2 separate regions of the Homo sapiens genome follow, and region 1 is linked to region 2. A link means that fine-mapping ties the variant in region 2 to the expression of a gene that starts in the linked region. Tissue or cell type: T cells. Region 2 holds a variant in brackets; the other region holds the start of a gene. All regions are shown on one strand. Distances are between the middles of the regions.

Region 1 (8,180 bases), 41 kb after region 2:
TGGGACAAGGGAAGTTGCTAAAACGCTTGGACCTGGAAGTACCAGGGTCATTAGAGAGCAGCGCCTGGCTGCCCTGAGGAGAGGGAGCAGGGTAGGAGTTACAATCGTACAGGCAGTGATGGGTCTGTGCCTGAGATCAGCAACCCTGGAAGTATTCCTAAAAGAGTCATTTAGGGCCAGGTGCAGTGGCTCACTCCTGTAATTCCAACACTTTGGGAGGCTGAAGCAGGTGGATCACGAGGTCAGGAGATCAGGACCATCCTTACCAATATGGTGAAACTCCGTCTCTACTAAAAATACAAAAATTAGCTGGGAGTGGTGGCACGTGCCTGTAATCCCAGCTACTCAGGAAGCTGAGGCAGGAGAATCACTTGCACCAGGGAGGCGGAGGTTGCAGTAAGCTGAGATCACGGCACTGCACTCCAGCCTGGCGACGGAGCAAGACTCCGTCCCAAAAAAAAAAAAAAAAAAAGAGTCATTTAGAAAAACTGAGTATGTGTCAACAATCTTCTGTGGCACTTGGATTTTAAATTGTTGGTGCTGGGATGAAACTGGTCCAGGGGGAGATCGCATCCCATTGATTTTCCCTTTTTGTATGTTGTGAAAATACCTGACATCTGTTTGACCTGCAACCACCATTGCAGCCTCAGCCATCCCCATTTTGGTGGCTGTGGCTTCTTCAACCTAATTTCTGCCACCCTCTGTGAATGACTTGGGTTCTCCAAATCACCACACCCTTGCAAGCTTAATGCCTGTAGTGAGCTGAATGGCGACCCTTAAAAGATATGTCCACATGCTAACCCCGGGAACCTGATTTACCTTACATAGTAAAAGAGTGAACATTATCTTATATGGCAAAGATAGGATTAAGTTAAGGATTTTGAGAGGGAGACCTTATCCTGGATTATCCCAGCAGGCCCTAAATCCTATGATGAGTGTCCTTATAAGAGACACAGAGAAGAGGAGGAGGCAATATGACTGGAGTGACATGAAGGCAGAGATTGGAGTGATGCAGCCACAGTCAAAGAATGTCTGGAGCCACTGGAAGCTGGAGGGGGAAAGAACAGGTTCTTCTCTGTGGCTTGTAGAGGGAGTGAGGCCCTGCTGGGACCTAGACTTTAGACTTCTGGCCTCCAAAGCCAGGAGAGAACATGTTTCTATTGTTTTAAGCCAAATTTGTTCCAACAGTGGCAGGAAGCTCATATACTGTCTTAACACATTCTGTTCTCCTACCTGGAATGCCTTCCCCTCTGCACGCACCTCTCTCAGGCCCACCTGTAGGAAGCTTTATCCACAGTCTTTACCCACAGTCTCTGGATGTCCTCCCTCCTGGCAAGAGGCAGAGGCCACTCTCCCACAGGGCCACTGCTCCCAGCAAAGACTTGCCCTTGTCCGTAGCTCCCTGCGGGTGGCGCTGTGTCTCATGCATTTTGCATTGTCCATGCCCTTCACAGGGCCCAGATACAATCAGCAGAGGAAGAAAACCACAGGATGAAACAGTCCCAATGACCAGCACCAGTGAAGACCCAAGACAGCACAAAAGGCCAGCTAGCAGAGAAACATGATTGTTCACCGTCCATCTCTGGGACAACCTAGGTCCTTCTTGCCTTTCTGTCCTCCTCAGTTGACAGAGTCTCTAAGGGAGGGGCAGGGCCTCCACTTTGTTCCTCCTGGTGTGGAATTCTGACCAAGTGTGTGTGTGTGTGTGTGTGTGTGTGTGTGTGTGTTTGCGCGCGCGCGTGTGTGTTGGGTTCTGTTAAATGCTTGAGCCTGAGACGGGGGGCGGGGCGGGGGGGGGTGCGGGAAAGCCATTTCCTTGCTTAAGCCCAAAGGGTTTCTCCTGACCAGTGGGTCACTCTCATGGCAGATGCCTGGGCAGATTTCTGAAGTGGAGCAAGAGAAATCTTCTCTTCTTCACCTGCTTCAGGGAGGCATCAAAGTGCCAAAAAGGTGGGTTCTGTGGGTCCCCGAGGCCCGTGGCAGGGGCCAGAGTCTGACACCCGCTTTCCCTGGGTTGGGGGCGGGGTGCCTCTGCCAGGAGCCTGGGTTCAGACCAGGCTGGCCTGTGGTCAAAGGCACACTTAGACCCTGGCTGGAGAGTTGGGGCGAGTTACGAGATACCCACTAGGTCACCTGTCAAAGACGGCTAGCCCTCCTGGGGATTTTGAAATCAGGGCACCCGCGGCAAGTTCCCAGGCTGTGCCTGGGGCTCAAGGCGGTGGCTGCTCCTGTGCTCTGGGCTTATTCCCAGGATTCTCAGACGGCTGATGGAAAACGCCCCGGACCCTCCGTAGTGCCGCGGGGAAGTCCCCGGAAAGGGTGTGAAAAAGTATCGAATTTGGGTGATGCCTCCTCCTCGTCCAGCGCCTGACAGGGCCCAGCTCCTGGCCCAGGTGCCCAGGAGGCACCGATCCCCGCAGCCGGCCTCCTCCCGCGCGGGCTCCACTCCCATTTCGGCCTCGCCCCCACACCCCATAGTCTTTCATCCGTGAGTCCTGCAGGCAGGACGGGTTGGAGGTCTGCAAACAGGACCCTCTCTGGGAAGCCGCGACAGCGGCTGAGCTCGGGGTTTGGGGGCGCAGGTCGGGCTAGAACCACCCCCCTTCTCTCCGCGTCCGGGCATCGTCCCAGCGGCCCCTCCTCTGTGCCCAGGATGCTCGGGCGGCGGCTGCAGTGGGACCTCCACCTTCTCTGCCAACCAGAGCGGAGGAACCTTTCCGCCTCCCTCCAAGCGGCGCACTGAGCGCTCTTTGCCTAGAACGACTTCCCTCCCGCTGCCTGGGGCAGCCTCACCCTGGGCGCCCACACCCCAGCCCTGGGAGAGCGCTACTCCGCCTCCCGCACCACCGAAAACCTCCTCCTCCTTTACGGGCCGCGCCTCCTTTACGGGCCGCGCCCCCTTTATACGCGGACGCGCCCTCTTTTGGTCGCCCCCTCCCCAACCCAGCACTAAGGAGCACCCTGCTCTGGTCTCCGCCACCACCCAGCGCCTCCTGGACCCATCCCCCCAAACCCTTGAACGTCCTCAGGACCCCCAGGTGAGCGCGGCGCGCTGCGGGCGGGGACCCTCTCTGCACCTCCCCGCACCCCTGGGGGTCGCTCTGTCCCTACGGTCCCCGCCTCCCCTTTCTCCTTTCTAAGCGCCTCGCGCCCAGGCCGCCGCCCGGGGTGGCGCAGCCCGCAGCCCTCCCGCTCCGGGCGCCCTCCGCCGCTCCGAGACCCCCTGGGGGCGCGTCCTCTCCCGCTCCCCTGTTCCCTCCCCCGGCTCAGGGCGGGCGCGTGGTCCCAGGGGAGGCTCCCGCCCAGCCCCGCACTCCTTTGTGCGGCCGGGCGGGCGCTGCGTCAAGGTGGAGGCGCGGCCACACGCGCGCACCCACCCGCGCGCACCCAGCCCCCGGGAGAGGCAGGAAGGGAGGCGGCGGCGCGAGGAGGAGGGAGCGGCCGTGGAGCCCAATCGTTCGCTCCCCTTCCCGGGTCCGCGCGCGGCGCCGCCTCCGCCATTGCTGCGAGCAGGAGCAGGAGACGCGGAGCTCGGAGCGCTCAGCTGACCTGCCGGAGCCGGGCGTGGGTGAGTGCGGCCGGCCGCGCCTGGGCTTGCCGAGGCCAGACCTTGCCCGCCCAGGAGCAGTGCCCGGGGGATGCCCATCTCCCGGAGTACGCGGGACGGGGCTGTGAACAGCGGGTCGCCCGGGTGCGGCGGCCCCAGGACCGGGGACCGGGTCTGGAGGTGCTGGGCAGGGGCGGCGCCCCCTTCCCTGGCCGCGGTGCGCCCTTGCGCCCGGCGCTTGGGTCCTGCGAGATGAGGGTCTAGAAATACACAGCACCACCCGACCCCCGCATCGGGCCGTGACCACCGCGTCCCCACGAGCCCTCCCCGAGACGAAGCGGGGCCGGGGAGCTCGCGGACGCCGGGACGCCGGTGGGTGTGGGTGCCCACTTCCCCCCCGCCCCGCCCCGGGTCTTGCTTGTGGTGACTCCCCCCGGCCCTCCCGCCGCAGGCTGCAGCCTCGGAGCTCCCGGAACGATGGTGAAGTTGGGGAACAATTTCGCAGAGAAGGGCACCAAGCAGCCGCTGCTGGAGGATGGCTTCGACACCATTCCCCTGATGACGCCCCTCGATGTCAATCAGCTGCAGTTCCCGCCCCCGGATAAGGTAAGCCCCCCCACGCCCCTCCACGTTGCCGGGTGTGCACCCCCAAATCTCGCACGGCGGGCGCAACAAAAGAAACGCGCCGCGTGCGCTGGGTACGCGAAGTGGGGGCGGGCTCGGGAGGCCGGAGGGAGCGCGGCGAGGACAGTGTACCCGCGCGGGATTCTGGATCGCGGGATGCTGGGCGGGGGAGGGGAGCCCTGCCTTAGATGATATTCTCGTCCTGACAGTGGAACGCGGTGGGGCAAGATTCCTTCGCGTTTTTCCTGGGAGCCTCATCCGAGAGGGCCCTGGCCCCGCAGCTGCCCTGCTCCTCCCTTGCCCCGTGGCCCCAGGGGCTCTGGATCGGGGGTGAGCCTAGGGGCGGGCGAGGCTGCCCCTGTACCTTCCCGGGTGTGGCAGTTCAGCCCGACTTGCCCCACCGAGGCGGGGGAGCGTTCTCCTTGGTCAGATGGCCCCTCCCCAGGGCTGAATTGTTCTCGCCCTTTCTGCCTGCCCCTGCCAGGCTGGCGCTAGGTGCAGGAGGGTGTGCGCGCTCACACAGGGTCTCCTTCCTCTTTGTTCCTTTTGTGAAATCTCCAAATAAGTGCCCGGGCTCGCTCAGTATTGGTGTCACTGGGAAAAACCATTCATCAACCTTTCCCCAAAGTGTTTTCTGCTGAATTTAAAGAATCTCCTCTTTTTGAATGTAGCATCCAATTAAGTAGTTTCTGTTTGCTAAGAATAATATTTCCAAGAGTTAACACTTAAAAATGTAAATAGATCTTTGCATGTCTAGGCAATTGTACTGTAAAATTCACATCTAAGACCATAGACACAGCATCTACTCTCAGCATCTTGCTGCCGCTTACGAACCACCACAGCCACGAATAATTCCCGGAAGTGCTTTTCTATTTATTTTCTCATTTAGTCCCTGGTGAAGGGGCTCTGAGCCAGGGCTCTGTCTTCGTTCCAGCAAGTTGGTGATTGCTGACGGGGTGGGTGTTGTGGGGTGGGGGTGTCCTGGTGGGGGCCCTGACCCCTGTGAAGGTGTCCTCCCAGCTTTATTGTGTGTGTCGTCTGGGGAGGGAGGCAGGAGCCGGGAAGAGGCTGGCAGCGGGGGTTTCAGTTCAAGAAAGGGGGATCAGCCGGCCACACCTGTGCCCCCCAGGCCACGGTGGTGCCACTCTGGGCCACTGATGGTCCAGGCTAGGCTTTGCAGGAGGGGCAGGGCTGCCTGAGGCCTCAGCTTCCACTCCACCCCTCCCTGTCTAGGCATCAGACTCGTCCAGTTAGCGGGGCCTGGCCCCGAGGCCCCCACACCCCCTCCTGCCTGGGCCCCCAGCTGCTCGGCTGAGGAGCAGTGGCGCCTGTGCCAGGAACTCCGTGTCCTGAGGCAGCACCTCTATCAGGTGATTCCCCTCACTTGGCCTGAGCCTCCTCTCTTGTCCTCAGTCTGTTCCATTCCAGAACCATTTGGCACAGTTGGTTTATACAGGGAGGAGGGTTTCAGGCAGGTATGAAATCCTCACCAACTAATTAGGTCGACCAGGAGTAGCCTAGGCAGCTCGGAAAGGTGATGAGTCTGCTCTCTCTGCAAGCGTCCGAAGCGGGGCAGCCAGCAGGGATGCTCTTCTCGGGTCCAGCCAGACCTTCCATCCCGGACTTCCCGCCGGGACTGAGTGTGGGTACAAGGGTTATGGCTCTTGGGATCATTTTCCAGAAGGCTTCTAAGGTCACAATGAGGGAACTGAGCCTCAGAGCATTTATGGGACATACCCAAGGTCACTGGGCTGAAGGTTACAGTCCTCCAGGATGCAGAAGTTTCTGGCAGTGCCTCTTACTCCACTGTGCTTGGAGCCAGATGTCTCTCACGTAAGACCTCTCTTAACCTGAACAACAGCAACGTGTTGCTAACGGTCAGAGTTCAGGGAGGCGATGTCACCTGTTTCAGGTGACATGGCTTCTGAGGGGTGGTGACACAGTTGGGTTATAAATGAGAATCTGTTCTGAGAACGTGTATGGAGTGCTGAGGTGCTGGGGTGCAGCGGTGACAGCAGTCACAGTGCTGGCAGCAGAGTCAGGGCTGGTCTCCCCTGACATTTGCCAGACACTTATTCTGCACCAGGAACTATTCTGCCAGTTTTACAGGTTTAAATTCTTTTAATGTGTTGATAATGCCATGAGGTCACTACCATGTTACCCCCATTTTGCAGATGTGGAAATGCAGGCACGGAGAGTTTGAGAATTGCCCAAGGTCACCTAGCCTGTTAGTGGCAGGTGGGGATAGAATCCAGGTCGACAGAATATTGATGGGGCCCCCACATACGGGAGAGGTTTCCATGGGTTTCCTCATCCTCAGCAGTAGCCTTATTTCCCATTCATTGGCCAGTCTAGGCCTGCGTGCTCAAGGTCACATGGCTAGTTGGGTCCAGTCGGGGTTTGAGGATGGCAGGGTGACACCCAACCACTGCCTCAAGCAATGAGTGCCTCACAGGGGTGGGTGCCCAGGCCAACCCATGCCAGGCACCCCTCCCTCTCCACCGCAGGAGCACTGGGTGGAAAAGGAGTTGGGGTCAGAGGCCAAGAGTGTGGTTACAAGGTTTATGGCTCTTGGGATCATTTTTCAGTGACCCTGGAATGGGCTCCGCTGTTCTTTCTCCCCAAGGCTGGCTTTGGGGGTCGTAGCACCGGATGAGAGGCCCTCTGGCTGCCCGCCTGGGGCTGACCATCCCCAGTTGCTGGGGTCTCTTTGTTCTGTCCTGGTCCCCACCATCGTGGAGAGCAGGTGACGGACTGCCCAATGAAGGGGCCTCGTCCCTCGGGGGAGAAAGAGCTTGGAGGTGGCTGGCTGTCTCTAGTGCAACAGCCTCTCCTGGAACCTGGCTTGGGGAGCGGGGTTTGGGGATTAGAGACCTATAACACCTTGACCCTGCTCTTGAACACCTCCCAGTCCAGTGGGACAGAGAAGTAAACAGTCCCTGGCAACGGGTGTGGTGAGTGATGAAGGCAGCGCCGCTGAGGCCAGGGCTGTGAGTGTCCAGGGCTGGGAGGCTTCTTGGGTCCATCTGAAGCTGCTGGGGTGTAGGGCAGATGCAAGGGCTGGTTTCCAGGTTGGACAAACATCGTTCTGCTTCACAGTAGGGGGTGGAGGGGAATGAGAGCAGGGAGACCCTTTGGGGGCTGTGGCAGGGGCAGGGGGAGAGGAGGATGTGGGGGTGGAGACAAAGAGGTTGATCCTGGATCTGTTTCCAGACAAGCTGGTGGCCAGCTTCTCCAGCCAGTCCTGGAGGGCTGTGGACAGTACCCTCAGACCTCCTCTTCTTGTGCCCATGGTGGCACAGCAAGGCCAGTGAAAAGGCAGGTGCAGCCTCCCAGCTTCCTGGGCCAAGCCAGGCTTTGGCTCTGGTGGGTGGAAGGAGCACTGGGTTAGGAGTCAGCTGCCAGGCTGCATCCCCGCCCTGCCGCCTATAAACCGCATGACCTTGGCCAATGAGCTTAACTTCTGTGCCCCTCGGTTATAATATTTCCCTCCTGGGACTGCTATCAGGATTATGAATGGGTCATTTCTCTGAAAGTCCTGCCACAGAGGAGATTTCCAAAAAGTAGTGGCTGTTCTCGTTCTTGTGAATTTCTTCCTGGCAAATGGTGACTTTGAATATGGGAGTTCCCAGACCCACCCTCTTTGGGCAGATATGTCTGAATGCATCTGACTTTTGTTTCTCTGTTTCCTGGATAAGGTGGTCGTGAAAACTAAGACCGAGTATGAACCTGACCGCAAGAAAGGGAAAGCACGTCCTCCCCAAATTGCTGAGTTCACCGTCAGCATCACGGAGGGTGTCACCGAGAGGTTTAAGGTGAGTGGTCCTGTGCTGGGTGAGATGCTGCTTTTGCCCCCAGAAGGGGTCTGCTGAGCTGCATAGATGCCCTGCAGGGAGGGCCAGGGTTTGACGCCGTTTGTCTGGGCTCATCCCAGCTGTGCACACCCAGTAGCTTGTGACTGCCTGCCAAGATGTTGTCCTTGTGCTTTTTGTACATTTCTTTTTTCTTT
Region 2 (8,180 bases):
GATGACAGATGCCATGGTGTGTAGTTCAGAGCCTGGTGTGTGTTAGGTACTCACATGCCTATTAGCTAAATTTGGGCAGGAAATGCAGGCCGAGAGATGAAGCACAGGCTTTGGCTGTGCAGATACTGTTGCCCCAAGGGGCTAGGACACTCTTAGAGGAATCCTGAGAGGTTTCCATCCTTTTCTAGGGTTCTGTTGCCATTTGATCATTCATTCATTCATTCTTTACTCACTCGCTAATTCATTCATTCAGCACATCTCTGGGGAACTACTCTTCCTCCCTCTGTGTGCTGGACATTTTGCCACCGGATCTCTTTATCCCTCTCCCAGGCCACATGCCCTCCCAATTGGCCAGACGACCGTGATCAACAAAATGCCTGCTGTGTGTGAGGCCAGCTGTACTGTATAATCCAGACAAAACCGGCAGTTTTTGCTTTTTTTTTTTTTTTTTTTTTTTTTTTTGAGACAGAGTCTCACTCTGTCACCCCAGGCTGGAGTGCAGTGGCGTGATCTGGGCTCACTGCAACCTTTGCCTTCCAAGTTCCAGCAATTCGTGTGCCTCAGCCTCCCAAGTAGCTGGGATTACAGGTGTGCACCACTATGCCCAGCTAATTTGTCATACTTTTTGTAGAAACGGGGTTTCACCAGGCTGGCTTGAACGAGGCCTGGCACGAGGCCAGGCTGGTCTCGAACTCCTGGCCTCAAGTGATGCACCTGCCTCAGCCTCCCAAAGTGCTGAGATTACAGGCATGAGCCACCGCACCAGGCCCTACTTTTGCTCTGGATTGGTTCACCGTCCTTCATCCTTTCTTGAATTTCCCCTCCAGGACTTTCGCCCTCATCAGTGGCTCCTAGCTTCCTAGCTGTACTGTACTTTTTTTTTCTTTTTCTTTTTTTTTGAGACAGAGTCCCGCTCTGTCATCCAGGCTGCAGTGCAGTGGCACAATCTCAGCTCACTGCAACCTCTGCTTCCTGGGTTCAAGTGATTCTCCTGTCTCAGCCTCCCTAGTAGCTGGGATTACAGGCACGTGCCACCATGCCCAGCTAAATTTTTTTGTATTTTTAGTAGAGATGAGGTTTCACCTTGTTGGCCAGGCTAGTTTCGAATTCCTGACCTCAGGCAATCCGCCTGCCTCGGCCTCCCAAAGTGTTGGGATTACAGGCATAAGCCACCACACCTGGCTTTTTGTGTGTGTGTTTTTTTTGTTTGTTTTTGAAACAGGGTCTCACTCTGTTGCCCAGGCTAGAGTGCAGTGGTGCAATCGCGGCTCACTGCAGCCTTGATCTCCAAGGATCAAGCGTTCTCATCTGGTCTCTTTAACCCTTCCCTAGGCCACATGCCCACCCAATTGGCCAGGCTACCATGATCAACAAAACTCCTGGCCAGGCTATCCAGCCTCCTCCTGCTGGTTCATTGCTAGGTGTTTCCCAGGCGTCCAGGTAAGAAGAATCACCTCGGGAGCTTGTTGAGCACGCAGCTTCCCAGGCTCTGTCCCTAGTGAATCCACATTACCTCGTCCTAGGTGGAGGTCTGAGACTTTGTGATCAAAGCACTTTCCTGGGTGCATCTGAGAGCGGTGAGAGGTTGGAAACGCCGAATCCTGTGCATACAGCTCACCTGGGGGTCTCATTACGGGCACACTCTGATTCATCTGCTCTAAGGCGGGCCAAGATTCTGCGCTTCCATCCAGGATCCAGGCAGTGCCCATGCCGTGGTTCATGGACCCCGCTTTGAAGGGCAAAGTGTTACAGGTCTATAGTCCTTCAACATATAGTAGTTTCAATGTGCTTAACCGCTTTCTTTTTTTGTCTGTTTTTGGTTTTTTTGAGATGGAGTCTCCCTTTGTCGCCCAGGCTGGAGTGAAGTGGCACGATCTCAGCTCACTGCAACCTCAGCCTCCGGGGTTCAAGCAATTCTCCTGCCCCAGTCTCCTGAGCAGCTGGGGTTACAGGTGCGTGCCACCAAGCCCAGCTAATTTTAGTAGAGACGGGATTTCACCGTGTTGATCAGGCTGGTCTCTAACTCCTGATCTCGTGATCCGCCTGCCTTGGCCTCCCAAAGCAGGTGTGAGCCGCCGCGCCTGGCCGCTTGCTTAACCACTTTTAAATGAGATCCGGTGCGTTCAGTGTGGTATGGCCATAGACTGCTTAACCACTTTCAGATGAGATCTTCCTATGAGCTGGGGAACAGGTGAAGGACTTTGAATGCAATGTCTCATTTGATCTCTTAATAGCGCCCTTTTACAAATGAGGAAACTGAGGCTTTGAGAGGTTTGTGATTTGCTGAGTCATATAGCTGAGGTGGGCAGAGTTGGCCTTGAACCCAGGCTGTTATGAGGCTGGGGCCCAGGCAATGGAGAAGAAAAGGAATGACAATATCTGGGCATCTACTGTGTGTGAGGCCGGTGTTGCAGGCATTCATCATCTCCTCCCATTTTTTTTTCTTCTTCTTTTTTATTATACTTTTTTATTATACTGGGGTACATGTGCAGAACGTGCAGGTTTGTTACATAGGTATACATGTGCCATGGTGGTTTGCCGCACCCATCAACTCATCTTCTACATTAGGTATTTCTCCTAATGCTCTCCTTCCCCTAAACCCCCACCCCCAACAGGCCCCGGTGTGTGATGTTCCCCTCCCTGTGTCCACATGTTCTCGTTGTTCACCTCCCACTTATGAGTGAGAACATGCGGTGTTTGTTTTTCTGTTCCTGTGTTAGTTTGCTGCATCATCTCCTTCAACTCTTATAGCAGCCTCACGGGGCACTTATTAGTATCCTCAACTTACAGAAAGGGAAACTGAGGCACAGAGAGGCTACATAGCTGATCCAAAGCCAGTCAGCTCCGGGTGGCAGAGCTGGGGTTGAGTCCAGTCTCCCTGATGCCCACATGTACCCAGCTCTGCTGCATCTCAGCCACCTGGCCAACACCGTCCTGCCTGCCCTGACAGCCATAAGCCCTGTGTCAGTGTCCTGGGGCTTCCAGAACAAATGACCCCAAGCTGGGTGGCCTTCAGCAGCAGACATGTATTCTCTCCCAGTGCTGGAGGCCAGAAGTCCAAAGTCAAGGTGTTGGCAGGGCCGTCCTCTCTCTGATGACTTTAAGGCAGGACCCTTCCTCTTCTCTTCCCACTTCTGGTGGTCCTGGCCCACCTTGGCTTGTAGCTGCATCGCTCCAGTCTCTGCCTCCGTTGTCACATGGCCTTCCTTCCTCTGGGTCTGTCTCTGCATCTTTCTTTTTTTCTTTTGAAAAATTTAATCTATTTATTTATTTTGAGACCAGGTTATTAGACTGGCTAATTTTTGTATTTTGGTAGAGATGGGTTTTGCCATTTTGTCCAAACTGGTCTCGAACTCCTGGGCTCAAGCTATCTACCTGCCTCGGCCTCCGAAAGTGCTGCATTACAGGCATGAGCCGTCGCACCTGGCCTCTGCATCTCTGTTCTTTTCTTTGAGACAGAGATTCGCTCTGTTGCCCAGGCTGGAGTGCAGTGGCGCAATCTCGTCTCACTGCAACCTCTGCCTCCTGGGTTCAAGCAATTCTCGTGCCTCAGCCTCCCAAGCAGCTGGGATTACAGGCATGCACTACCATGCCCGGCTATTTTTGTATTTTTAGTAGAGATGGGGTTTCACCATGTTGGCCAGGTTGGTCTCGAACTCCCGACCTCAGGTGATCCGCCTGCCTCAGCCTCCCGAAGTGCTGGGATTACAGGCGTGAGTCATCACGCCAGGCCTTTTGTTGTACTTTTAAGAAGTCAAAAGCTGGGGCAGGGATCGGGGGAGGTTGGGAGGTGGATGAGGGATAAAAGACAACATATTGGGTACAGTGTACACTGCTGGGGTGATGGGTGCACTAAAATCTCAGAATTCGCCACTAAAGAACTCAGTGATGTAACCAAAATCCACCTGTACTCCCAAAAACTATTGAAATAATAAAATAAATAAAAGGTCAGAAGCAAAGAGAATTAACAGGCAACCCACAGAAGAAAATATTACTAGTTAACATGCCTGCAAATGTTTTCACCCCCTGGTGATCAAATAAATACTAACTGATGTAAGATGCCATTTCTTGGCCTTCATTAGTGAAAGTTTTTGTAAATGGTAATTGTGAATGCTGGAAACTGTTTCTTGAACAGTCACTTTCCTACATTGCTGTGGCCTCTTTTCGGGAAGCAATTGGACAGTGTTTCCCAGGGGCGGCCAAAAGATCCATTCCATTTGATTCCATGATTCCACTTCTAAAACTCTCTCCCAAGGAAATAATCAGAGATGTGGTCACAATTTCTATACAAAGATGCTGTTACAACATCTGAAAAAAAAAA[A/C]AAAAAACAGTGGCAGAAACAAATTAAAACTAGCTTAAATGTCTAACCATAGGCATTGATAAAATAAAAGGGTTTTTGCTAACTTAGAAGAATGCTTATGCTAAGTGAGAAGGGATGCAAAATTGTATATCCAGTGGGACCACAAATGTGTACAAAATTGTGCAGAATAAAAGGACTTGAGATACTCATGACAAGAGTCATAAAGAGAAAAATTTCCAAGTATGACAAGGGCCTCTCTCTGGGACAGATATGGGGCCATGTCATATACTATTGTTGGAGCACAGAAAACAATTCCCCACAATATGACACTTCCCATGCAGACCTGAAGAAGCAGCCTCAAGGTCTCTCTGATCCCTCTCCTCCTGCCTGTCAACCTTCTGTCTCTCTCAAAGCACTGGAGGAGGCTATTCTCTGACGCTCCCCTATCTACCTAGAAAACAGACCCCTAGTGAGGAACACAGCTGCCTCTGTTGACTTAAAAGGAAGAAGCTGAGGCAACATTCATTTAAGTACAAAGTTTATTTGGGCCAAGCTTGAGGATTGCATCCCAGGAGCATAGATTCAAATTGCTCTGAATATACACTCCAATTAGCAGCAGTTAAAAGTAAATTTTTAAAGGAAAAGAAGAGGCAGTTCCTGAGTTGTTTATCAAGAACGTGTAGTAAAATAACAAGTTTTGATTGGGTATAGGTTGTTCTTTTTATCACACATTTCAGGAACATGAAGATAATGAGTGAGGCAGCTAGGCAGGAACAAAATAACTTTTTTTTTCTTTTCTTTTTTTGTTTTTTGAGACAGAGTCTTGTTCTGTGGCCCAGGCTGGAGTGCAATGGTGTAATCTCAGCTCGCCACAACCTCCACCTCCTGAGTTCAAGCGATTCTCCTGCCTCAGCCTCCTAAGTAGCTGGGATTACAGGCATGCGCCACCACGCCCGGCTAATTTTTGTATTTTTAGTAGAGATGGGGTTTCACCATGTTGGTCAGGCTGGTTTTGAACTCCTGACCTTGTGATCTGCTGGTCTTGGCCTCCCAAAGTGCTGGTGTGTCTGGAATTGGTTACTTCTGGTGCGTTCTTCGTCTCGCTGACTTCAAGAATGAAGCCACGGACCCTCGCGGTGAGTGTTACAGTTCTTAAAGATGGTGTGTCCAGAGTTTGCTCCTTCAGATGTTCAGATGTGTCCCGAGTTTCTTCTTCCAGTGGGTTCGTGGTCTCGCTAACTTCAGGAGTGAAGCTGCAGACCTTAGCAGTGAGTGTTACAACTCTTAAAGGTGGCGCGTCCAGAGTTGTTTGTTCCTCCCGATGGGTTTGTGGTCTCGCTGACTTCAGGAGTGAAGCCACAGACCTTCACAGTGAGTGTTACAATAAAGCTAGTGGGGACCCAAAGAGTGAGCAGCAGCAAGATTTATTGTGAAGAGCCAAAGATCAAAGCTTCCACATCCTGCAAGGGGACCCCAACGGTTTGCAGCTGCTGGCTCAGGTGGCCAGCGTTTATTCCCTTATTTGGCCCTGACCACATCCTGCTGATTAGTCCATTTTACAGAGTGCTGATTGGTCGTTTTTACAGAGTGCTGATTGGTGCGTTTACAAACCTTTAGCTAGACACAGAGTGCTGATTGGTGCGTTTTTACAGAGTGCTGATTGGTGCGTTTTTACTGAGCGCTGATTGGTGCGTTTACAAACCTTTAGCTAGACACAGAGCGCTGATTGGTGTGTTTACAATCCTTTAGTTAGACAGAAAAGTTCTCCAAGTCCCCACCCAACCCAGAAGCCCAGCTGGCTTCACCTCTCACTGGGATTACAGGCGTGAGCCACCACGCCCAACCGGTAGGAACAAAATAACTTTAAACAATTGTCCCCAGGTGTAGGCACCGGCTACAGGGGGCCAGGGAATGACTGGAATTCCATACCCATGTCTCTGTGGGTCTGCAGATCTCTCAGTTCTCAGCCTGCTCTGAGCTATTTTTCTTTTCTCATATCCCCCCTGTTGATCAAAATTATTCCCATGGCAGCATTGATGATCAGTCTCTGTGCAGGTGGCAGTGATAGATGTCCTTCATCCCTCAGTGCTGGGAAGTCTCATTCCTGGGTAGTCCTCATTCAAGCCACTGATTTATATAAATGCTGTTGTTGCTTGTTGAATCATCTCCACTCTTCAGAATATCATTTTCTGGTTTTCTTGGAAGAAGCAAAACCCTGAGAGATACATAGTAACAAAGCCTATTCCATTGGGGATTCAGTTCAAATTGTAGGAAAATAATAAAAGAACTCAAAAACAATGGTCGGGGGCTGGAATCTAATAACAGGTGTTCTATAGCTTTCTTCAGGAGCCTAACTTTTTTCTCCAGTCCCTATTTTTACCAAAGTTTAGTATTATACTTGGCCTGATTATTTGCATAAAGTGCAGCAAGAATAGTGATTGGCCATATAGACCCTTTTAAGTTGACTTTGCTGGAACGTTCAGAAGGAATTTCAGATTAGACTTTTAAAAGTCTCAAGGCTAGGACATCAAACCAAGGATTCACCGCTAGACTGCACCTGTAATACTTGTACAAATTGGGTGAATTTCTCTCTTCCCAAGGTCCCCAAAATATCTTTTGGTTCCTGGGCATATCAGAAAGACACATTCTTTATTTACTGCAAGATTAGAAACCTTGAAAGGGAACTATGTAGACAAGATAGCAGGCCAGTTTTGCCAAGAGGCTTTTTATCAGCTCTATAAAGTCCATTTCAATTCCTCAAAGCAGTGTTATCATATCTGAAAATACGTCATTCCAGTCAGAATCTTGATTTGAAAAAAAAATTGTCTTAAATTGTATCCTGTGACAGAAAACAGATTCTTACTGAACTAATGCAAATAACTTGATTGCCATAAAATACGAATACTCATGAAGATTTTCCAAGTTTTGGGGAAATCAGGTAGAGATAAAGGCAAATGTTTCCATTTTGTTTACAAAGGTATATTTTATCCAGTTTCTATAAGCTACAAATAGTTCAAAAGAGAAAAGTTTTCTTGACTGTGGAAATCAAAATATAAAAAGAATCAGCAATGTTTTGGGCAAAAAATCATAAAAGTCATTTCAGTCCTCTATCAGTTCAGTCCCATGTAATTAATTCTTGTCTTGCTTGATGTTGGGTTAGCAATCTTCATGAATGCATTAGTTTATTAGAGTTCTGAATGTTTTTACTTGGTCCAATGATACGATCTTTGAAGTTATCAAAAACCTGTATTCAAGAGTACAGGGCCGGCCGGGCGCGGTGGCTCACACTTGTAATCCCAGCACTTTGGGAGGCCGAGGCGGGCGGATCACGAGGTCAGGAGATCGAGACCATCCTAGCTAACACGGTGAAACCCCGTCTCTACTAAAAATAGAAAAAATTAGCCGGGCGTGGTGGCGGGCGCCTGTAGTTCCAGCTACTCGGGAGGCTGTGGCAGGAGAATGGCGTGAACCCAGGAGGCGGAGCTTGCAGTGAGCTGAGATCAGGCCACTGCACTCCAGCCTGGGCGAAAGAGCAAGACTCCGTCTCAAAAAAAAAAAAGAGTACAGGGCCAGGGTCCTTTTCCATGAATCTCTTTGAAGAAAAAGCAAATTTGAACTGCAGCCAGTTGTAAATCACTTTTTGAGAAGAATCAAAATAGAGCAATAATTGTCTATGAATGGCAAAAGACTTCGGGTAGCTATAGTTAAAGATGTAATTAACAAGGAAATTTGATTATTTCTGTGGCATACAATAATTTAACATAATAACTATAATTATGTGTGACAACATAGACGTATCAGAATGTTAGGAATCTCATAACTTGAGAACACACATTCATAACGTATCTATACAAATATAACTCAAACAAATTTAAACACC

What was found. PIP is the estimated chance that this variant, and not a neighbour inherited with it, causes the effect.
Region 1: NSG1 starts here. The variant in region 2 is fine-mapped to the expression of NSG1 in T cells (TOPMed, PIP above 0.99). The same link has a PIP of 0.9 or more in blood mononuclear cells.

Annotation. Positions count from the first base shown.
Region 1 is chr4:4,383,606-4,391,785 of GRCh38, forward strand. NSG1 (neuronal vesicle trafficking associated 1) reads left to right here and starts at 3,497. Exons shown (of 5, transcript NM_014392.5): 1 at 3,497-3,568; 2 at 3,999-4,153; 3 at 7,870-7,986. The coding sequence starts at 4,025. LOC112268462 (a long non-coding RNA gene) reads left to right here. Exons shown (of 3, transcript XR_007058004.1): 3 at 917-1,004.
Region 2 is chr4:4,343,036-4,351,215 of GRCh38, forward strand. No RefSeq gene overlaps it. Among named protein-coding and RNA genes, the nearest start is that of NSG1, 40 kb to the right of the region's middle. The variant A/C (reference allele first, on the strand shown) is at 4,322.